Linked DNA regions of Homo sapiens: region 1 is reported to be linked to region 2. The links are microRNA targets in miRTarBase. Many come from high-throughput screens and were not tested one by one. Region 2 holds a microRNA gene; the other region holds the end of a gene's coding sequence.

Region 1 (11,077 bases), not on the chromosome of region 2:
GCCCAGCCCTCCCTTCCTTTTCATAACCGGCAGCATTACCTGTTAGCTGAGGGGACTCTGGGCAGACAGCCTGGATTCTAGTCCACTTCTGCCACTTCCCAGCTCCCAGGGACCTTCCTTGGGCACATGGGCCGCAGTTTGCCCATCAGTAAAATGGGGATGAGCTGAACACCGATACCACCTTCTCAGGGTTGTCCTGAGGTCTAAATACGAATATATGTAAAGTGGTGACAATGGCAGTCCGTCCAATTACTATGTATATTCACATTGTTATGATGTCGCTGTCACCCCTCCCTGGCCCCCAGCCCTCTGCCTTTGAAGAGAAGGCCATTGAGAAGGTGGATGACCTGCTGGAGAGTTACATGGGTATCAGGGACACGGAGCTGGGTGAGTGAGGGCTGCCTGGGGGAGGGGGCATCTAGGTCTGCTGGGGGCCGAATCCACCCTGAGCCCCTTGGTCCCTGGTGTCATTTGTGCCTCCGTTCTGACCCCTCCCCCAATAGCGGCCACCATGGTGGAGCTGGGAAAGGACAAAAGGAACCCGGATGAGCTGGCCGAGGCCCTGGACGAACGGCTGGGTGACTTTGCCTTCCCTGACGAGTTCGTCTTTGACGTCTGGGGCGCCATTGGGGACGCCAAGGTCGGCCGCTACTAGGACTGCCCCCGGACCCTGCGATGATGACCCGGGCGCAACCTGGTGGGGGCCCCCAGCAGGGACACTGACGTCAGGACCCGAGCCTCCAGCCTGAGCCTAGCTCAGCAGCCCAAGGACGATGGTGAGGGGAGGTGGGGCCAGGCCCCCTGCCCCGCTCCAATCGGTACCATCCCCTCCCTGGTTCCCAGTCTGGCCGGGGTCCCCGGCCCCCCTGTGCCCTGTTCCCCACCTACCTCAGCTGGGTCAGGCACAGGGAGGGGAGGGATCAGCCAAATTGGGCGGCCACCCCCGCCTCCACCACTTTCCACCATCAGCTGCCAAACTGGTCCCTCTGTCTCCCTGGGGCCTTGGGTTCTGTTTGGGGGTCATGACCTTCCTAGTTTCCTGACGCAGGGAATACAGGGGAGAGGGTTGTCCTTCCCCCCAGCAAATGCAATAATGCCCTCACCCCTCCTGAGAGGAGCCCCCTCCCTGTGGAGCCTGTTACCTCCGCATTTGACACGAGTCTGCTGTGAACCCCGCAACCTCCTCCCCACCTCCCATCTCTCCTTCCAGGCCCATCCCTGGCCCAGAGCAGGAGGGAGGGAGGGACGATGGCGGTGGGTTTTTGTATCTGAATTTGCTGTCTTGAACATAAAGAATCTATCTGCTGTTGGACCTGTGTGGCTTCGGGGTGGGAGAGGGGGAAGATTGGGGCTGAGAAAGAATTCAGCAGCTGAAATCCATCTTCCGCAGGCTCCAAATTGAATTAGGAGCTGGCACCAAGCCACCTGCCCCCTCCCACTGTTCCTTCTGGCTGCAGGCCACCAGGCTTCCAGGCAGGGCCAGAGCTTCCTGGACTACTGAGGGTTCAAATCCTGCCCCCTCTCCCACAAGGCCTCCTACCCCCTGGAGCTTCACAAGGCTGCTGTCTGCAGCTGGTGACAACCCCCGGACCGTGGGGAGCACCAGGGCATTGAAACCTGGCTTGGAAATAGAAAGATGGAACCTCAGGCCTGCCAGAGCCCCACCCCTACACCGGGAGGTTGGGGGCAGGCGTGAGGCAGCCCCCACCCCACCCGGCCCAATGCTGGACACGCAGGCGTCCATGGGGCACCCTGCTTTGTCCTAGACATAAACCCAGCATACTTGTTTTGACAACCCACTCATCTTCGAGGATTGAGGGTGATCAGGGAAAGGCGGGGTGGGACCCTGGCCAGACCTGGAGGGAAGGGAAGGGATTGAAGCAAGGGGCGCTGGGCCAGAAGGCCCCACAGGAATGCTTGGGGGTGAGCCGAGAGGCTGTGGGGAAGTCCGAGGCCAGCTTGCAATCCTCGTTCCAAAAGGCGGGCGGGCACTGGGCCACCAGGAAGAGGGGAAGGGGGAAAAGGGGAAGACCCTGGGGGCTGGGTGTTGGTGGACAGACCCGGGTGGAGTCGGGGAGCCGCAGTCCTGGTGACTCAGGGCATCCCCGGGCACCTGTGGGCTCCTCAGGTGTCTGTGCTGGGAGCCGCTTGCGGTGGTGAAGGGGTGTGGCTATGTGTGTCTCGGGTGTTGGGTAGCACTGTGAGTCTATCAAGAGTGTTGATGGCTCGTGACGCAATGAGGGAGGGCTGTGTCGTGGGTAAGGGATGTGATAACCGGCTCTGTGTTCCAGGGCAATTGCAGGTGTAACTGGCAGTGTCTGGTGGTGGGGAGTGCAACGGAGTGACTGTGTCTTGGGGTGTCCCGGGGTGTGGGGGTGTGTGTCTTAGGGTGCTGTTTCTGGGGCAAGGAGGGGTGCTTGGCTAGGCCTTGGGGTGTTCAGGGGTGTCAGGGTATGTCTCGGGGTGTTGCTGTTTCCTGGGTGGGGGTGCTGGCTAGGTCTAGGGGTCTCTAGGGGTGCAGGTGTGTGTGTCTCAGGGCGTTGCTGTTTCTGGGTGAGGGTGGGGGTGGCCAGCTAGGTCTCTGGTGTCCAGCGGCGGGGGGTGTCACTTCTTGTGCCTTGGGTGTACGGAGTGTGCTGGTGGGGCCTGTCTGGGATTGTTGAGGGGTCATTGAAAGTCAAACAGAGTGTGGTCAGGGGCAGTTTTGGCAATAAGGAGTGTGTGTGCGTGTGTGTATCTCTCGGGGTGCCAAGTGAGACCCTATTTCCCAGCACTAAGGAGGGTGGTTCGGGTGATCATCTCAGAGGGCTGCATTTTGGGGTGTTGGGAGGGGCTGGAATTGAGGCAGTAACTCTGGGTGCGTCCCGGCGCTGGGGGTAAGACCCTGAGTTCAGGGATGTGGCGGCAGCAACCTGGCTGTGCTGAGATGGGGACAGGATGAAACTGAGTGGTAAGTGACAGGATTGTATGTCTTAGGGTGTGAGGCTGTGCCAGTGTGACCCTACTTCTCAGGGCAGGAGGCGAGTCTTTGTGTCTTAGGACGTGTGTCACAGGTGTCACTCAGCCCATCTTAAAGGAGCCAGTCACTGGGGAGAGTCCCCAGGTCGCCAGGCCTCCTGGTTCCCCTGCCCCCTTTCAGCCTCCTCCCAGGATATGACTCGCTGTGGCCCTAGCCGGGGCTTAAGCCCCTGTATAAATAGGCGGATCCCCTGGCCAGGCTGGGCCTGACCCAAGCTGGTCTACCCGAGGCCCTGCCCACCAGCACCCACCCCGACATCCACGAAGGCTTTGGCAGGGCAGGGGGGGCATTGCTGGCCCCACAGAATTGGAGTTAGCCTCTCTAGCTCCAAAGCCCCAGGGAGGGGGGCAGTGGCACCCCCTGCAGCTGCCCCAGCCCGCCCCAGACGACGCTCACATTTTCCAGTGTTTAGATTTTATCCGCTTTATTAATGAGGCAAGAGGCCCGATCCTGGGGGGGAAGGGGGCTGCTCCCGCCCTGCTGGGAGGAGGGGGTCACATGGGGCCAGACCAACTCCAGGGAGCCTCACTCCTCGTGGAGGGAGCCGCTGGGGCCCAGAGTGGCCCCCGCCCATTGCCAGGAGCAGAGAGGGGGGTCTCTGCCACTCCAGGCCCCCAGCGGGCGTGCGCGGGGTGGAGCGGCCCCTGGAGGCCAGCAAGGGCGGCGGGAGGAGCTGAGGAGCCGCCCCAGGAAGAGGGAGGGAGGAAGCGGCTTGCCGGAGAGCCAGGGCGCAGTGGGCGGCAGGGCTGAGCGGCCGGTGATGGGGACCCCACATCCCAGGCAGTGCCGGGTAAGGGGGTTGCACATGAGGGTCCCTGATTGGGGAGGAGGAGGGCATGAAGGGGTGGGGCCATGGCCACCTGCTGTCCGTCCTGTGTCCCCGGGCTCTTCTCCCTGATCTGTGCGTCCCTGTCTTACCGTCTGTCCATCCTCCCTTCCCATCTGGCCTGGTGGGCAGTTCCGCCCTTTCAGCCCTCACCACCAGGATATCAAAGAGTGGATGGTCGTGGGGCCGCCTCCAGGCCTCTGGGGCAGGGATATGGAGTGGAACCGTGGGCACCCAGGGTGAGGCAGAGGTGATCGGGGTAGGGCCTGGCGAGAGACCGCAGTGGAGCAGAGGCAGGTCCATGGGGCAGGGGCAGAGATGGGTCCATGGCACAGATGTGGCTGTGCCATGTGGGGTCAGAGATGGGTCCATGGGGGACAGGGACATGGCCGTGGGGAGAGATGTGCCCGTGGTGGTAGAGATGGGGCTGGGGCATCGAGGATGGGACTGGAGTAAAGCTGACATGGGGAAAGTCAGGTAGGGCCACAGTGGCAGAAATGGGTGAGAGCTATCAGATGGAGCCACAGGCCCCAGGAATTTGCTGGGTGTAAAAATGGAAGGTGGGGGTCGGAGGCACTGGCAGAGATGCCTGAGGGCGGGGCTGGGGGGAATCTTGCAGGAAACCATGAAGGGCAGAGAAAGGGCCAGTGGGGTTAGAGGGAGGCCCTGGAGCAGGAGATGGGGTGGTGAGAGGCAAAAGAGAGGGAGAAGGGTTTCCAAATGGAGTGGCCAGGTCATTTGGAGTTGCCCATGGCAACTGCCATGGGCAGAGGGGCCGCCTGAGAACGCCATGGAGTCAAACAGGCCCTGATGTTCTGAGATGGCACCGTGGGCTGGTCCCCGCCCGGGCCCAGCCAGCCTCACTCTGCCCTCCTCTCCTCTATCCAGCACCCCTGGCGCCTGACATGAGCCCTTGCGGGCCCCTCAACCTGAGCCTGGCGGGCGAGGCGACCACATGCGCGGCGCCCTGGGTCCCCAACACGTCGGCCGTGCCGCCGTCGGGCGCTTCGCCCGCGCTGCCCATCTTCTCCATGACGCTGGGCGCCGTGTCCAACCTGCTGGCGCTGGCGCTGCTGGCGCAGGCCGCGGGCCGCCTGCGACGCCGCCGCTCGGCCGCCACCTTCCTGCTGTTCGTGGCCAGCCTGCTGGCCACCGACCTGGCGGGCCACGTGATCCCGGGCGCGCTGGTGCTGCGTCTGTACACTGCGGGGCGCGCTCCGGCCGGCGGGGCCTGCCACTTCCTGGGCGGCTGCATGGTCTTCTTCGGCCTGTGCCCGCTGCTGCTGGGCTGTGGCATGGCCGTGGAGCGCTGCGTGGGCGTCACGCGGCCGCTGCTCCACGCCGCGCGGGTCTCGGTCGCCCGCGCGCGCCTGGCGCTGGCCGCGGTGGCCGCGGTGGCCTTGGCCGTGGCGCTGCTGCCGCTGGCGCGCGTGGGCCGCTATGAGCTGCAGTACCCGGGCACGTGGTGCTTCATCGGCCTGGGTCCCCCGGGCGGCTGGCGCCAGGCACTGCTTGCTGGCCTCTTCGCCAGCCTCGGCCTGGTCGCGCTCCTCGCCGCGCTGGTGTGCAACACGCTCAGCGGCCTGGCCCTGCTACGCGCCCGCTGGCGACGCCGCTCCCGACGGCCTCCCCCGGCCTCAGGCCCCGACAGCCGGCGTCGCTGGGGGGCGCACGGACCCCGCTCGGCCTCCGCCTCGTCCGCCTCGTCCATCGCTTCGGCCTCCACCTTCTTTGGCGGCTCTCGGAGCAGCGGCTCGGCACGCAGAGCTCGCGCCCACGACGTGGAGATGGTGGGCCAGCTTGTCGGTATCATGGTGGTGTCGTGCATCTGCTGGAGCCCAATGCTGGTGAGGGGCGCACCGGCCCCTCGAGCCACGCTCCTTCCCGCTCCCTCTCGGCACCCTCCCGCCCTTTGTCGTCCCAGGACACCTGGGGCCTCCATCCTGGACTCAACCAAGGCCCCGGCCCCTAGAGGCCCCACCTGCCCCGAAAGCCAGCATCGCCTTCTCCATCTGACCTCCCATCCTTCCTCCTAGCCCCCCTCTCCTCTTCCTTTTTGGGGTCTTTGTAGCGCACCCCGACCCACACAAGCCTCCTCTCCTGCCCCACCGTTATAAGTCGCCGCGCTTCATTCCCTAGTCCTTTCACCCAACCCCCTTGCTTTTCCTCTTTCCGGGACACCTGAGACTCCTCTACGGCCGGACCCCCACCCACTGAAGGTGTTTGTTTCTTTGCCCCCCTTTTTTTTCCGCATCCGTTTCTCATCTGGATCCCCATTTACCCTCCCTGCGACGGCTCGCCCCTCCTCCCAGGCTTTTACCTTCCAGCCACGCCCCCACCATCCCTGCGCCCCCCTGCGCCCGCGCCTGCTCTATAGCTCACACCGGCTTCCCCCGCAGGTGTTGGTGGCGCTGGCCGTCGGCGGCTGGAGCTCTACCTCCCTGCAGCGGCCACTGTTCCTGGCCGTGCGCCTTGCCTCCTGGAACCAGATCCTGGACCCTTGGGTGTACATCCTACTGCGCCAGGCCGTGCTGCGCCAACTGCTTCGCCTCTTGCCCCCGAGGGCCGGAGCCAAGGGCGGCCCCGCGGGGCTGGGCCTAACACCGAGCGCCTGGGAGGCCAGCTCGCTGCGCAGCTCCCGGCACAGCGGCCTCAGCCACTTCTAAGCACAACCAGAGGCCCAACGACTAAGCCAGCCCACCCTGGGCTGGGCCCAGGTGCGCGGCGCAGAGCCTTTGGGAATAAAAAGCCATTCTGCGAGCCCAGGCAGGACCGTGTGTCCCGTCGGGGCTTCGGCATCCACTGGGGCCGCGCGGGGGGCTGCAGGGACGCCGCGTGCGCCTCCAGGGTGGATGCAGTTCCGGGGCCTACCAGAAGAGGGCGCGGAGACACGGGGGCGCGGTTCTAGGAGGTTCGAGGGTGCCGGGCCCGTGGGCGCCAGAGCCGCAGGAGCAAGCGCACCGTGCGGGCGGCCGGGGCTGGGGCTCCGCTGGGAGCAGAGACAGAGGGTGTGTGGGGCGTTTCCTGACCTTGCCGCTGCCCTAACGGACTTCCGAAACCATTCTGCTCACTGCGGCTTTGAGCTCTTCCAATACAGCCCCAAAACCCTATCCCCAAACCATTTTGCCCCACGCCCCTGGGCGCCCCCCAACACAATCCCGACGCCCCCTCCCATCTCGGCTCACCCACGCTCCCCACCATAAGAACAGCCCCGAGTCCACGCCGCCCCTTGATCCTCTTCAGATGACACCCCCATCAGTCGAGACTCCCACGACCACCCAGCCACCTGCCCCGCAAACGTCCACACCTCCAAGCACGCCCCCACCCCCAATGACTGCACACAAGAAGACACGGAGGATGCAAGGATCCGGCAAATCCCAAAGGCCTTTTTAAAAACTAAGAGCTCTCGGGCAGGGGCAGGGGCAGGGGCAGGGGAGGGGGCTAGCAGCCCCCGGCCACGAAGTCGAAGTCCAGGAAGGCTGCCTGCTCCGCGGCTGTGAGGGGCCGCGCGTCGCGGGGCGGGCTCAGTGTGGGGGCCTCCCCGGTGAACTCCTCGTCGAAGTTGCTGACGTCGGTGCGGCCGGACAGCGTGGGCACAAAGGGCGGTGGCAGGCGCCGGGCCAACAGGGCTTCCCAGCCCAGAGTCTGCAGGGGAGGGAAGCGGAGGGGAGGGTCAGCCTGGAGGCTGAGGAGGGGGCGTGCTGCAGTGGGGACCAGTCCTGGGGCTCGGGGACCACGGAGAGGAGTGAGCATACAGAGGACAAGTGGGGTGGGGGGACTGGGGCTCAGGAGGGATCACCTGCGAGAGCCTGGTGGAGAAGCCGGATTAGGAAAAGTGGAGGCCCGGCGTGGTGGCTCAGGCCTGTAATCCCAGCACTTCGGGAGGCCGAGGCGGGAGGATCACTTGAGGCCAGGAGTTCAGGACCAGCCTGGCCAACATGGCGAAACCCCGTCTCTACTAAAAATACAAAAATTAGCCTGGTGTGGTGGAGTGGTGCACGCCTGTAATCCCAGGTACTCGGGAGGCTGAGGCAGGAGAACTGCATGAACCTGGGAGGCGGAGGTTGCAGTGAGCCGAGATTGAGCCACTGCACTCCAGCCTGGGCGACAGAGCGAGACCCTGGCTAAAAAAAAAAAAAAAAGGGAAAAGTGGAGATGTGGGATTAGGAGGGTCCTTGGGGGGAACAAAAGTGGAGGAGGGAAATGGGGGTGTCAAAGGAGGTGACGATGTTGCCCTGGAGGTGCAACGAGGCCCTTGAGGCGCAACGAGGCCCTTGAGGCAAAGCGGCTAGGCATGGGGGCCGTCTGCTGTGGGGTGATGAATCGGCCCTGGGGGAGGGCCGGGGTCACTGAGGTCCTTGTGGGGAATCTCACCCTGAAGAAGGGCTGTTTCTTCACATCTTCTGCATCTCTCTCGCTAGATCCCAGCCTCCGCTCTGGGTTCCTCCGAAGCAGCTTGGAGGAAGGAGCACTGTGTCAGGATCTGTCCCCTCCTGGGCCCCACTGCCCCTCCCCAGGCCCGCCCCACGTCGGGGGTCCTCACCCTTCTCATGATGCCGATGGCTTCGGCCGACAGGAAGCGGGGGTAGCGAACCTCGTCGTTGACGATGCTGTCGAAGACCTCCTCCTCATCATCCCCTGGGAATGGGGACTGGGGAGAGGGAGGCCCGGGGTGAACGAGGCCCCTCCTCTGGCTGCTCCAAACCCAGCCCGGCCTGAGCCCCACACTCTGCTGCAGCTCTTGGGTGCTGGCTTACTTGGGCAGGGAAATGCCCCATTTTATAGATGTGGAAACTGAGGCCAGGGAAGCAGAGCCAGCAGCCCTCAATCACACAACACATGGTGGAGGCAGACTTGGATCCCACCCTGGGCACGCGCAGGTTCCAATGAGATCCGAGACACACAGGGGCGGGGTCTCACCTCGCCAACCAGCATCTCGTAGAGCAGCACACCCAGTCCCCACCAGTCCACAGCTCGCGTGTACGACGTGTCCGTCAGCACCTCAGGGGCCAGGAACTCCGGGGTCCCACAGAATGTGCTGGTCCGGTCCCCATAGCCCATCCCTGGGGACAGCAAGGCCATGTGAGGTTATGGGGGCCAGAGGAGTCACTCAGCCCAATGTGGGGTTGTCCACACAGCCAGCCCTGTCCCAGGGTCAGGGTGGGGGGCACCCCGAATAGGGTTAGGGACCCCATTCCTTCCCCCTCCTTTGTCTAATCCAGAGGCCAGCCCCTCACCCTCCTTGCAGAGGCCAAAGTCTGCGATCTTGACGTAGCCCTCGGTGTCCAGGAGCAAATTGTCCAACTTCAGGTCCCTGTTGGGGGTTGGAGGGGTGGAAAGAGGGATGAGCGGGGGTCTGGGTCCTGTCCCCACAACGGGCAGTGTGCACATGCATGCACACACGCACACACCTGTAGACGATCTTGTGTTCGTGAAGAAACTGTAGGCCCAGCACCACGCAGGCGGAATAAAAGCTGCAGAGAGAGAGAGGCTGCTGAGAGGGGTGGGGCCACCCTGCAAGGAGGGAGGGTCACATAAGCCTGGCTTCCACATCCTCAAAAGCCCCCCAGTCTCCCCAAAGCTCTGGGAGGCTGAGGGAAGCAAGGCCTGAGGGTGGAGGGGTGAGAAGCAGGCTGCCAGCCTCTCGGGGGGACTAAGTGTCAGATGCTGTAGGGGAGGCAGGGGCCCGGGCTGGGGTCCAGGCTCACATGGCACGGGGCTCAGAGAACACGTCGCTGTGGATGTGCAGCATCAGGTCCCCACCGGCCGAGTACTCCATCACGAAGCACACGTGCTCCGGTGTCTGGAAACAGCCGAAGAGGTTCACCAGGAAGGGGTGTCCCGCACTGGTCACTGCCGCCAATATCCGCTTCTCACACATCAGGCTGGGGAGGGGTGGGGGATAGAAGTCAGAGACCATGGCCGCCACTTACTCCAGACTCCCAGATGGCAACCAAAGCCCATACAGAGGGAAGCAGAACTGAGAAACGTCATCTCAGCACCTGGATACAGCCATGCCTGAAGGTAGCACACTCCTGGACTTTTCAGATCCAGACCAATAAATTTCTTTACTTGTTTCAGTCTTTCTCAGTTGGGTTCCTGATTATCAAAAGGATGCTGGGAAGACCAGGCACAATCTCAGTGCCTGTACCGAATGTTTAGAGGGGTTAGGCACTGTGTAGAGAGCACCTGACAACCATGTGTGGAAGGCAATAGCATTCTGCTTCTCCACAACAAGAGGGGTTCTTTTTTTTTTTTTTTTTTTTTTTTGAGACAGAGTCAGGCTGGAGTGCAGTGGTGCGATCTTGGCTCACTGCAACCTCCGCCTCCTGGGTTCAAGCGATACTCCTGCCTCAGCCTCCCAAGTAGGTGGGACTACAGGCACCCGCCACCATGCCTGGCTGATTTTTGTATTTTTAGTAGAGACGGGGTTTCACCATGTTGGCCACACTGGTCTCGATGTCCTGACCTCAGATGATCTGCCCACCTCAGCCTCCCAAAGTGCTGGGATTACAGGCGTGAGCCACCATGCCCAGCCAAGAAGCTGAGGTTCTGAAGGGAGAAGTGACCTCCCCAGGATCTCCAAGCCCATGCTGCAGAATTGAGATTTGAACCCAGGAACCTGACCCTAAAGCAGAGGCAGTATGGTGGCACCACAAAGGGCACAGGCTTCAGAGCCTGAGTCTCTAGCTTTGAATCCTGGACCTGCTGCTTACTGGCTGTGTGACCTTGGGTAAATTGCTGAACCTCTCTGTGCCATCAGTATTTATCTTATAGGGCTACATGGAGGAACAAATGAATAACTTTCCTAAGAGCTATTATTATCTTGGTATTAGGCTAGTAGGTATTAGTGACTTTTTGTTTTGAGACAGGGTCTCACTGTGTTGCCCAGGCTGGAGTGCAGTGGCGCGATCTCAGCTCACTGCAACCTTGACCTACTGGGCTCAGGCGATCCTCCTATCTCAGCCTCATGAGTAGCTGGGGCTACAAGCATGTGCCACCACACCCAGCTAATTATTTTGTATTTTTTGTAAAGATGGGGGTGTCACCATGTTGCCCAGCCTGGTCTTGAAATTCTGAGCCCAAGTGATCCACCTGCCTCGGCCTCCCAGAGTGCTGGGATTACAGGTAAGAGCCACTGTGCCTGGCGTTAGTGACTACTATGAGTCACTCTCCCTGTAGCTCCAAGGAGAGAACTGCTCTGTCATTTCCCAAAAGAGAAGAAAGAGGTC
Region 2 (11,077 bases):
AGCTAGAGGAGGGCAGAGAAGAATGCCTTGCTTGCTCTCAGTCATGTTACTGATACAGGGCATAGGATTGGCCCAGACCATCTTTGGGCCCATAGTGCCCGGGGCAGAGCTGTGTGGCAGATCATCAGCCAGCCTGGGCCCAGGCAGAGTGGAGGGCTGAGGAGTTGGGCATTCTGGACGAAACCCAGTGACCACACTCTCTGTGCCTCAGCTCCCCGGATACCCCCTGACAAGAGGATTTTCACTACGCGGCACACACCCAGCTGCCTCTTCCAGGATGTGGATGAAAGGTGAGGATAGGACCTAGAGGAGACGAGGGCAGCCAGGGCTGAGGCCACGGCCACTCTGATGCCTCCTTCCCGTTCAGGGCTGCCCCCCTGCTGGGCTACCTGCCCCAGGACCTCCTGGGGGCCCCAGTGCTCCTGTTCCTGCATCCTGAGGACCGACCCCTCATGCTGGCTATCCACAAGAAGAGTGAGTTCCTCTCGCCCTGCTCGCCCTTCCCACTGTCCTGGGCTTTTGAGTGGCTGCCCTTGTGGTTGTGTCTCTTGGTGCCTTGGTCTCCTGGATCTCTAGTGGCATGGCCTCCCTCTTACTCAGCTCTCCCTCCCTTTGACCGCTCCTCCTTTCCCACTTCCATCAGTTCTGCAGTTGGCGGGCCAGCCCTTTGACCACTCCCCTATCCGCTTCTGTGCCCGCAACGGGGAGTATGTCACCATGGACACCAGCTGGGCTGGCTTTGTGCACCCCTGGAGCCGCAAGGTAGCCTTCGTGTTGGGCCGCCACAAAGTACGCACGTAAGTGGGCCATGCCCCCGAGCTGGCGTTGGGGATAGGGCAGTGCGGTGGGGGACAGGACCGGGCCAGGGCTGGATTCACTCTTCACTCTACAGGGCCCCCCTGAATGAGGACGTGTTCACTCCCCCGGCCCCCAGCCCAGCTCCCTCCCTGGACACTGATATCCAGGAGCTGTCAGAGCAGATCCACCGGCTGCTGCTGCAGGTGAGAGTAGCGGAGAGGGAGCCTGGGAGGTGAGAAAAGGTGTGGGAAGCCGGGTCAAGCCATCTAACCTGCCCTCTCCCTGCTGCAGCCCGTCCACAGCCCCAGCCCCACGGGACTCTGTGGAGTCGGCGCCGTGACATCCCCAGGCCCTCTCCACAGCCCTGGGTCCTCCAGTGATAGCAACGGGGGTGATGCAGAGGGGCCTGGGCCTCCTGCGCCAGTGAGTGACCTGCTCCTACCTCACCCTCTAATCGCCCTTTCCCCTCTCCTTCTTGGAACCAGCACTGCCAGTCCCAGAGTCTTGCCCGATCCTCCTTTGCCCTCTCCTTCCTGCCTTTTCCTTCTTGTCCTGCTCCCATCAAGGCGTCTGTGCCTCCCCACTGGTACCTTCTTGTTTTATTGTGCCCTTGGCCCCTGACACTGGCGACACCCCCTGGTTCTGCTCACTGTGGTGCTGTGTCCCACAGGTGACTTTCCAGCAGATCTGTAAGGATGTGCATCTGGTGAAGCACCAGGGCCAGCAGCTTTTTATTGAGTCTCGGGCCCGGCCTCAGTCCCGGCCCCGCCTCCCTGGTGAGTTGATGATGATGTGTGGGTGAAGAGACAGACCTGGGGGGTCCCCTGACCTTCACCCCCAACCCATTTGCTGTTTTTTTCCATGTGAGCTTGAGAAGGCTATTTTCCTCTTTCTCTCTTTGCCCCAGCTACAGGCACGTTCAAGGCCAAGGCCCTTCCCTGCCAATCCCCAGACCCAGAGCTGGAGGCGGGTTCTGCTCCCGTCCAGGCCCCACTAGCCTTGGTCCCTGAGGAGGCCGAGAGGAAAGAAGCCTCCAGCTGCTCCTACCAGCAGATCAACTGCCTGGACAGCATCCTCAGGTAAGGCCTGCCAGGCATCTTCTCCACCTCGGGCTCTAACCCTGCCCACCCCAAGCCCTGCTCTGATGCCCTGTGCTGTGTCCATCCCCAGGTACCTGGAGAGCTGCAACCTCCCCAGCACCACTAAGCGTAAATGTGCCTCCTCCTCCTCCTATACCACCTCCTCAGCCTCTGACGACGACAGGCAGAGGACAGGTCCAGTCTCTGTGGGGACCAAGAAAGGTAAAGATCCAATGCACCCTGCTCCCACTGCCCCGTCCTGGCCTGGTGGCCCTGTGTCTTTTCCCTTCTGCTTCTGGGCCCTCTTGCTCTGCCCTGCTCTCCTCCCCAGCCTCCTGGTCTCCAGACTGTTCCCTCTGTTCCCTACCACCATCCCCTTCCCCTTTTCCCTGGGATCCTCTCTCCTGACTTCCCAGTGGGGGTGGGGATGGTAACTGGCACCATCTCTCTGCACAGATCCGCCGTCAGCAGCGCTGTCTGGGGAGGGGGCCACCCCACGGAAGGAGCCAGTGGTGGGAGGCACCCTGAGCCCGCTCGCCCTGGCCAATAAGGCGGAGAGTGTGGTGTCCGTCACCAGTCAGTGTAGCTTCAGCTCCACCATCGTCCATGTGGGAGACAAGAAGCCCCCGGAGTCGGGTATGGGTGTGGAATTGGGGGGCAGTGCTTGGGCTCCACCGGTCTCCCAGCTAGAGCTCCCTCCTGCCTTTCCCCTCCCCTCTAGGGCCTGATGGAGAGAAGGAGGCCTCCCTTGACCTGGGGCTTGGGGCTACTGCTTCTTGCTCTCCCCTCCCTGCCAGGCTTCTCGGCTTTGCCCTTCCCCTGTTCTGCTTCTCGTATTGTTACTGTCAGTTGAAACACAGAGTCTGGGATAGAGGGTTTGCCCTGAGGTGCTGACCACACAGGGTCTGAAGGCAAGGAAAATTGAACATCCCTGAAGGGTCTTTGGATATTGACCTTGAAAATCATGAGGGGCTGGGCATGGTGGCTCAGGCCTGTAATCCCAGCATTTTGGGAGGCTGAGGTAGGAGGATCACCTGAGATCAGGAGCTCGAGATCAGCCTGGGCAACATGGTGAAACCCTGTATCTACTAAAAATGCAAAAATTAGCCGGGCGTGGTGGCGCGCGCCTGTAGTCCCAGCTACTCGGGAGGCTGGGACAGGAGAATCGCTTGAACCCAGGGGGTGGTGGTTGCAGTGAGCTGAGATCGCACCACTGCACTCCAGCTTGGGAGAAAGAGTGAGACTCCATGTCAAAAAAAAAAAAAAAAAGAAACAAGAAAATGTGTGAGGGAAGGCCAAGGGGTGGGCTTCTCTTCCAATGAGAGTTGTGACGGGGTCATCCCAGTAGAGTTCCTGGCAGGGAGTGGCCACTGGAGGGGCCTGAGTATCGTCTCTTCTTCTGGGCCAGCTTTGCATGGAGAGGAGGACCCAGGGCCAGCCGTTGGCAGAGAGGTGACCAAGAAACGTACATGGAGACCAGGCTTGGCTGTGGGGCAGAGCTGCCAGGGGTTGGCTAGGCTATCAGACAGGGAGGGTGTGGTATGGATGTGTTGACCCCTGAAGTGGTTCTGATGACCTTTCCCTATCTCACTCTCCTCAGACATCATCATGATGGAGGACCTGCCTGGCCTAGCCCCAGGCCCAGCCCCCAGCCCAGCCCCCAGCCCCACAGTAGCCCCTGACCCAGCCCCAGACGCCTACCGTCCAGTGGGGCTGACCAAGGCCGTGCTGTCCCTGCACACACAGAAGGAAGAGCAAGCCTTCCTCAGCCGCTTCCGAGACCTGGGCAGGCTGCGTGGACTCGACAGCTCTTCCACAGCTCCCTCAGCCCTTGGCGAGCGAGGTAGCCACCTGGGGCCTCCTGGAGCCTGCCCTCTGCCCAGTCTAGGACTGGATTGTTGGGGGGTGGGTCTTAAGGGAGGTGTTTCTGCTCCAGGGACCCAGGCTGGTGTTGCTTCCACCACTAGGCCCTGCCTAGGGACAGGCCCCTCGCTAGCTTCTCCCCACTAGGATGGGGTTCCGGGCTGCAGCCAGAGGAGGGCAGCCTGGGGGGATGGCACTGGGATGGGCAGGCAGAGGTGCTGTCTCCAGGTAAGCGACTTCAGGCCTAGCCTGGGGGCAGGGGCAGGAAGTATGCCCACTTAGGAGTCAGTTGTCACTGATGAAGAGACATGCATAGATTCTGGGCCAACTCTGGGTGGGGTCTGGGCTTCAAGGGCAGGTGGAAGGCAGCCCCTCCAGGTGCCTGAGGGAGATCCCCTGCAGGCAGACGCAGGACTCAGGACTGGGCTTTCCAGCCCCACTCTTCACTCCATTGCAAGCTAGGCAGAATACGGCCTCGATGGGCAGGAGGAATGCCTAGGCTGGCAGTGCCCACAGGAGTTTGGCGGACCAGAGCCATCTGTCCATGTGTCCATGGACTCACCCTGCTTCCTCCATCTGCCAGCATGCCTCCATCTTCCGCACACCCCCAGCTCGACCCCTCGTGTAACCTCTCCCTGGCCTTGTTCCTTTCTCAATAAATCCCCTTGTCCCTGGCTCCTGTGATTCTTCCCTGAAGGTGCCCCACCTCCTGAGTCCCCCGTTCTGTGTGGGTTGAGAAGCTCTCTCTGGGACCTTGGCCTGTCCTCTCCCTGGTCAGCGTGTCAGGGCAGTGTGGGTAGCAGGGGTACTAACCCCAGGTTGAGGTCCTTGCTAACCCTAGTCTCTCCCCACAGGCTGCCACCACGGCCCCGCACCCCCAAGCCGCCGACACCACTGCCGATCCAAAGCCAAGCGCTCACGCCACCACCAGAACCCTCGGGCTGAAGCGCCCTGCTATGTCTCACACCCCTCACCCGTGCCACCCTCCACCCCCTGGCCCACCCCACCAGCCACTACCCCCTTCCCAGCGGTTGTCCAGCCCTACCCTCTCCCAGTGTTCTCTCCTCGAGGAGGCCCCCAGCCTCTTCCCCCTGCTCCCACATCTGTGCCCCCAGCTGCTTTCCCCGCCCCTTTGGTGACCCCAATGGTGGCCTTGGTGCTCCCTAACTATCTGTTCCCAACCCCATCCAGCTATCCTTATGGGGCACTCCAGACCCCTGCTGAAGGGCCTCCCACTCCTGCCTCGCACTCCCCTTCTCCATCCTTGCCCGCCCTCGCCCCGAGTCCTCCTCACCGCCCGGACTCTCCACTGTTCAACTCGAGATGCAGCTCTCCACTCCAGCTCAATCTGCTGCAGCTGGAGGAGCTCCCCCGTGCTGAGGGGGCTGCTGTTGCAGGAGGCCCTGGGAGCAGTGCCGGGCCCCCACCTCCCAGTGCGGAGGCTGCTGAGCCAGAGGCCAGACTGGTGAGCACTGACCCCTGCGTCTGCCTGCCAGCCCCCACCCCAGCCCCGCCCCTCTGCCACCCTGTGCTGCCTGCTGTCTCTGCCAGGCTGGCGTCTCAGCCTCCAGGAGGTGGAGGGAGTCCCCAGCTGAATTTCTGAATGAGGCAGAAATTGGCTACCTCCTCTTTGAAGGGACAGTCCTGTCTGTCTGACAGGTGGTGAGGACATCTCAATAACTTCTGAGAGAGCATCTGTCACTTGGAAAGGGTCTGGCCTCACATCCCCACTCTTCGCCAGCTTTCTTCTCTCTCAGCCTGGCCCTACTGTCACGAAGTGGGGAGCAGAGACCACTGGGGTTGGATGTGCCTCTCCCCACAACCAGTAAGAGCAGTTGAAGGGAGGCCTAGGTGCTGACCCCTCCATCCCTCCTTGCCCCCCTCCCCTCCTCCAGGCGGAGGTCACTGAGTCCTCCAATCAGGACGCACTTTCCGGCTCCAGTGACCTGCTCGAACTTCTGCTGCAAGAGGACTCGCGCTCCGGCACAGGCTCCGCAGCCTCGGGCTCCTTGGGCTCTGGCTTGGGCTCTGGGTCTGGTTCAGGCTCCCATGAAGGGGGCAGCACCTCAGCCAGCATCACTCGTGAGTACCCCGCCTCCAGCATCTCCCAGGGTAGGGCAGTGATTGGGGAGCCGGGAGCCCAGGCCCCGTCTTGGCGGAGCTTCCTAAGGCCACTGGGATGGACATGTGGCCTTTGAGGGAGGCCTTGTGAGGTCCCAGGAGTGGGCATGCAGCCGGCCTGACTCCCATTGGTCTGCCCCCCACTTCACAGGCAGCAGCCAGAGCAGCCACACAAGCAAATACTTTGGCAGCATCGACTCTTCCGAGGCTGAGGCTGGGGCTGCTCGGGGCGGGGCTGAGCCTGGGGACCAGGTGATTAAGTACGTGCTCCAGGATCCCATTTGGCTGCTCATGGCCAATGCTGACCAGCGCGTCATGATGACCTACCAGGTGCCCTCCAGGTGAGGCATTTCAGAGGCCTTCTTGGCCTTCCTTTCAGAGGTAGTAGTGGGGGCAGTTTTCTTTTCTGGGGCTGGCTCTGCCCTGGATAGGATAAACGTTTCTATCTTTCTTCCTGCTCCTTGGAGCCCTGTTACTAGTTCCTCCCAGGAGGAGAGCAGGTTTCCTGGTCTTGGAAGCCTTGACCTCGCATAGCACTAGTTTAGGGGAGGAGCATGAGGTGGGAAGCTGTGGTAGAGGAAGGATGCCAGCTTCATGGGTCCTGGTCCGGGTCCTGGATCCCAGCCTCTGCCTTCTGAACCCCTTCTTGGGCAGGGACATGACCTCTGTGCTGAAGCAGGATCGGGAGCGGCTCCGAGCCATGCAGAAGCAGCAGCCTCGGTTTTCTGAGGACCAGCGGCGGGAACTGGGTGCTGTGCACTCCTGGGTCCGGAAGGGCCAACTGCCTCGGGCTCTTGATGTGATGGTGAGAGAAGCCTGGGACGGGGAGAAAAAAGAATTGAGCTCAAGTTCAAGGGGGAGAAAAAAGAATTGAGCTCAAGTTCAAGGGGGAGAAAAAAGAATTGAGCTCAAGTTCAAGGGATCGAGGCCAAGAGCTGATCTCCTTGATGTCCTTGGATCATTAATTCTGAAGAATGTTGATTCCACTAAATTTGCTGTGGATTATAGAATATTAAGCCGCGTGAGTCTTTGCAGAACTTTTCACAGCCTATCCTATGCTAATATGCATTGTGACTGTCCTGTAACGGCATCTGGGTAGAGGGCACAAGGCACTGTCCAACCTTGTTGGACCGCAGGTGCATCTGTGTGGACTGGTGCTTCTTGGGAGTACATTTCGGGAAGCACAGTGGGCTGGGGGTGGGAAGCTGCGCTGGCAGGTTAGCAGTGAGAACCCTGTCTGACTCTCTCATGTCCATTTCTCTCACCAAGGCCTGTGTGGACTGTGGGAGCAGCACCCAAGATCCTGGTCACCCTGATGACCCACTCTTCTCAGAGCTGGATGGACTGGGGCTGGAGCCCATGGAAGAGGGTGGAGGCGAGCAGGGCAGCAGCGGTGGCGGCAGTGGTGAGGGAGAGGGCTGCGAGGAGGCCCAAGGCGGGGCCAAGGCTTCAAGCTCTCAGGACTTGGCTATGGAGGAGGAGGAAGAAGGCAGGAGCTCATCCAGTCCAGCCTTACCTACAGCAGGAAACTGCACCAGCTAGACTCCATTCTGGGACCATCTCCAGGAGTCCATGAGAGGCTTTCTTCTCCTATGTCCCAATTCTCAGAACTCAGATGTGGCTAGACCAACCAGTGGGAAACTGCCCCAGCTTCTCCCACCATAGGGGGCCGGACCCCCATCACCAGCCTAGGATCCAGGGGCTGCCTCTGGCCTCTTAGGGAGCAGAGAGCAGAACTCCGCAGCCCAGCCCAGAGGAGTGTCACCTCCCACCTTTGGAGAGGAATCCTTCCCTCCCCTGGACAAAGTTGCTGACAAGCTGCTGAAGTGGCCTCTCCATATTCCAGCTGAGCCTGAATCTGACTCTTGAGGGTTGGGGCTGCACTTATTTATTGCGGGGAGACAGCTCTCTCTCCCACCTCCTCCCCAGATGGGAGGAGAGCCTGAGGCCCAAGCAGGACCCGGGGGTTCCAGCCCCTAGCTGCTCTGGAGTGGGGGAGGTTGGTGGACCATGGAGTCCCTGGTGCTGCCCCTCAGGTGGGACCCAGGCGTTCTCAGCTGTACCCTCTGCCGATGGCATTTGTGTTTTTGATATTTGTGTCTGTTACTACTTTTTTAATACAAAAAGATAAAAACGCCCAGGACTTTGTGGAATGAAGTTTGGGGTTGGGGTGAGGGGAGCATGTCAAGGGGAGATGTGGCCCTGCTTTTGGGAAGGTTGTAGTGAGGGTGTACAGGGCCATCTCCTGACGACCCCCATTCCTCTTTTCCCCCATCCTGTCCAGGTGAGGGCCCTGCTGAGCCCGCTACGTCCACGTCCAGCTCAGACTCTGCTGTCCCCTCTAGCATGGCCTCAGCTGGGTTTGCCCTGGGAAGGAGAGCTGAGAGGTGCGTGTGGCCAAGGGCTTGGGTAAGCTCCAGCCCGGGTCACGGGTGGCCAAGGCAGAGGAACCCTGCTTAACTCCGTGGTGCCCTGAGGTATTCGAGGGTGTTTGTCTTCCTTGGCTTCCTTTTTTTTATTTGAGACGGAATTTCGCTCTGTCACCCAGCTGGAGTGCAATGGTGCAATCTCGGCTCGCTGCAACGTCTGCCTCCCGGGTTCAAGCGATTCTCCTGCCTCAGCCTCCCGAGTAGCTGGGATTATAGGTGCCCACCACCGCGCCCGGCTAATTTTGTATTTTTAGTAGCGATGGGGTTTCACCATTTTTGGTCAGGCTGGTCGCGGACTCCTGACCTTAGGTGATCTGCCCGCCTTGGCCTCCCAAAGTGCTGGGATTACAGGCGTGAGCCACCGCGCCCGGCCTTCCTTGGCTTCTTGGTCACCACACAGAGAGGGCCCTTCAGCAGGTCAGTCTAGGTAGCTAAGGGACACATGGAGTCATGTGCTCACTCATGGTTGAGTTGGCCCCAAAGGTGTGGAAGAATGGAGAAGCAAAGCATTAACCCTTTGGCTCAGAACCTGAAAGGGAAGAGGCACCTTAGGAAGGGATGAGTCACTGAGGAACCACTGCAGGCAGTTTGCTGATTTTCACTTACTGTCACCCACTAAGAGTTGATTTATCTTGAGGAACACCTGTTTTACGCCGGCGCCGTGGCTTAGCTGGTTAAAGCGCCTGTCTAGTAAACAGGAGATCCTGGGTTCGAATCCCAGCGGTGCCTGAGTTAGCGGGGAGTGATATATTATTGCTGCAAGTACACTTCTCCACTTTCAAAGGGCCTTTCTAAGAAACATTTCTTCTAGACTCTCCCTAAGATTCTTCTTACATGCCAATCCGTCTTTGGACCTCCGTTTCCCTGCACTTTTAGTGTGTATTGGAAACTACAGATTCTCACTTCGGTTTCATGAAGTAGCCTGAAGTAGGCATCTCAGGGTCTGTCCTCAAGAGTATGGAAGACAGGGCTCGGATTTGGACCCGTTTTGTTTCCATCCTATGCTCAGGGAGGAGAGGGAGAATAGGAAGGCTGCCGCTCCAATGGGGCTGCTGACGTCTGCTGGAGGGAAGGCATGGTCTGCGCCACCGAGCAGAGGCGCACGAGCGCAGACGTCTCTAGGCGGCGCGGGTGGAGCCGGGCGGAGCCGGGCGGAGCCGGCTGGAGGCGGGCGTGTTGATAGGCAGCTATAGTTGCACAGGGCCGACAGCGCACGCGGCTGTGATGGCCGAGTGGTTAAGGCGTTGGACTCGAAATCCAATGGGGTCTCCCCGCGCAGGTTCGAATCCTGCTCACAGCGTCACTAGTTTTGGTATTTAGGTATCTCGGTCTCTGGAGAAGGAAAAAGCAGTTTGTTTTCTGGTTCTTTCCTTGGAGAATCTCCCGCGTTATTCTGAGAATCTCAGAGACTCGGCCGTCAGGGACCAGCCCGCGAGCGCCCTCTTGCGATTCTCATAGTCCTATCGACCTGCAAAAACTTTTTTACTGCGGATTTCAATTCCTAACGCCACCACACTCGGGTGGCTCCTTAGTGCTACTCAGCAATCGTTACTTTCCTCCAATTCATTCACTCTCATACTGCCCCATGAGACTGTTTCATTCCTACCCTCACCTCAAACTACGAATCCCTTCTCAGCTTTTACTTCCTGATTCACTGAGAAAATAAACCATTCCGGAGTTCCCCATCAACATTCACATCGCACCTACCTACCTACCTACCTAATTGAGTCGGTGACCACGTACTCTTCTTTTCCTTCATTATTGTAGAAGAATGCTTCCACCTAAAGCCAACCCCTACTTTTACTAGATTTCCCATCCCTCTGGCCATCTCAAAGACACTGCTTTTTCCTATACCATCAAAATTTCCCTCTCAGCCGGGCGTAGTGGCTCACGCCTGTAATCTCAACACTTTGGGAGGCTTGACGGGTGGATCACTTGAGGTCAGGAGTCCGAGACCAGTGAAACCCCAATCTCTACTAAAAATACAAAATTAGCCGGGCGTGGTGGCTGACGCACGCCTGTAATCCCAGCTACTCGGGAGGCTGAGGCAGCAGAAGCTCTTGAATCCGGGAGACGAAGGTCGCGCCATTGCACTCCAGCCTGGGCAACAATAGCAAAACTCCATCTCAAAAAAAAAAAAATCCCTCTCTACTTGATTTTTCTCTTCAGCCTACAGACACTAATTTCCCCCAATTTAGAAGCAAGACAACAAAAGCTATCTTGACCCCACACGCCTGTCCAGCTACCACTCAATTTCTCTACTCCCTTCTACAGCAAACAGAGCAAGTTATCCAATTCCATCTTCCCACTCTCCTTTGGACCCTTGCTAATCAGGTGTCCACCGCCCCCATCAAAGCTGCCCTTGTTAAGGTTGCCGAATGATCATCACATTGCTAAATCTATTGACCATTACTTCGTGGAAGCTGATACCGATGCTCACTCTTCCATTAGAAACACTCTTCGCTTGCCTTCTAGGACACTACGTCCTTCTGATATTCCTTCTACTTCATCAGCAGCTTATTCTCAGACTTCTTTGCTGTTCCTCACCTTCTGGATCTCTAAATGTTGGACTGTTCCCAAGGCTCAATTTTCCAACCTCTTCTCTATCTGTACCCACTACCTTGGTCATTTCCAGTTTCATGGCTTTAAATATCAGGTAATACATTAATACATCCCAGATTTTCATCTCCAGCTCCAGAACTCCCCCCTGAGTTACAGATGCTTATGTATTATTGCCCACATATCATCTACACTTGGAAAAAGCTAATACAGATCACAAACTTAAAA

The links. The annotated mature microRNA hsa-miR-6883-5p reads AGGGAGGGUGUGGUAUGGAUGU and lies in region 2 at 3,405-3,426, shown strand. An mRNA with a match to its seed (bases 2 to 7 or 8) in the 3' UTR can be bound and repressed. Matches are read on the target gene's strand: a 7mer-m8 pairs with bases 2 to 8, a 7mer-A1 pairs with bases 2 to 7 and ends in A, and an 8mer does both.
Region 1: miRTarBase lists GIPC1 as a target of hsa-miR-6883-5p. Seed matches in the 3' UTR shown: 7mer-m8 at 827-833, 7mer-m8 at 1,121-1,127 and 7mer-A1 at 1,191-1,197.

Annotation. Positions count from the first base shown.
Region 1 is chr19:14,467,994-14,479,070 of GRCh38, reverse strand. GIPC1 (GIPC PDZ domain containing family member 1) reads left to right here. Exons shown (of 9, transcript NM_005716.4): 8 at 306-387; 9 at 504-1,309. The coding sequence ends at 655. PKN1 (protein kinase N1) reads right to left here. Exons shown (of 22, transcript NM_002741.5): 16 at 9,554-9,730; 17 at 9,257-9,319; 18 at 9,083-9,159; 19 at 8,766-8,908; 20 at 8,389-8,496; 21 at 8,220-8,300; 22 at 7,212-7,490. The coding sequence ends at 7,287. It overlaps PTGER1 (prostaglandin E receptor 1), which reads left to right and starts at 3,717. Exons shown (of 3, transcript NM_000955.3): 1 at 3,717-3,809; 2 at 4,734-5,692; 3 at 6,245-6,605. The coding sequence starts at 4,751. The coding sequence ends at 6,511. RefSeq lists enhancers at 209-724, 3,064-3,732, 6,724-7,372 and silencers at 2,165-2,647, 6,797-6,886.
Region 2 is chr17:8,137,394-8,148,470 of GRCh38, reverse strand. MIR6883 (microRNA 6883) reads left to right here and starts at 3,400; the gene lies at 3,400-3,477. It overlaps PER1 (period circadian regulator 1), which reads left to right. Exons shown (of 23, transcript NM_002616.3): 9 at 212-290; 10 at 368-474; 11 at 644-797; 12 at 893-1,001; 13 at 1,090-1,221; 14 at 1,469-1,574; 15 at 1,706-1,877; 16 at 1,969-2,099; 17 at 2,334-2,513; 18 at 3,478-3,720; 19 at 4,595-5,205; 20 at 5,636-5,822; 21 at 6,013-6,202; 22 at 6,516-6,666; 1 more. The coding sequence ends at 7,403. TRS-CGA1-1 (tRNA-Ser (anticodon CGA) 1-1) reads left to right here and starts at 9,509; the gene lies at 9,509-9,590. TRT-AGT5-1 (tRNA-Thr (anticodon AGT) 5-1) reads left to right here and starts at 8,946; the gene lies at 8,946-9,019. RefSeq lists an enhancer at 7,904-8,582 and silencers at 8,980-9,029, 9,390-9,559, 9,580-9,639.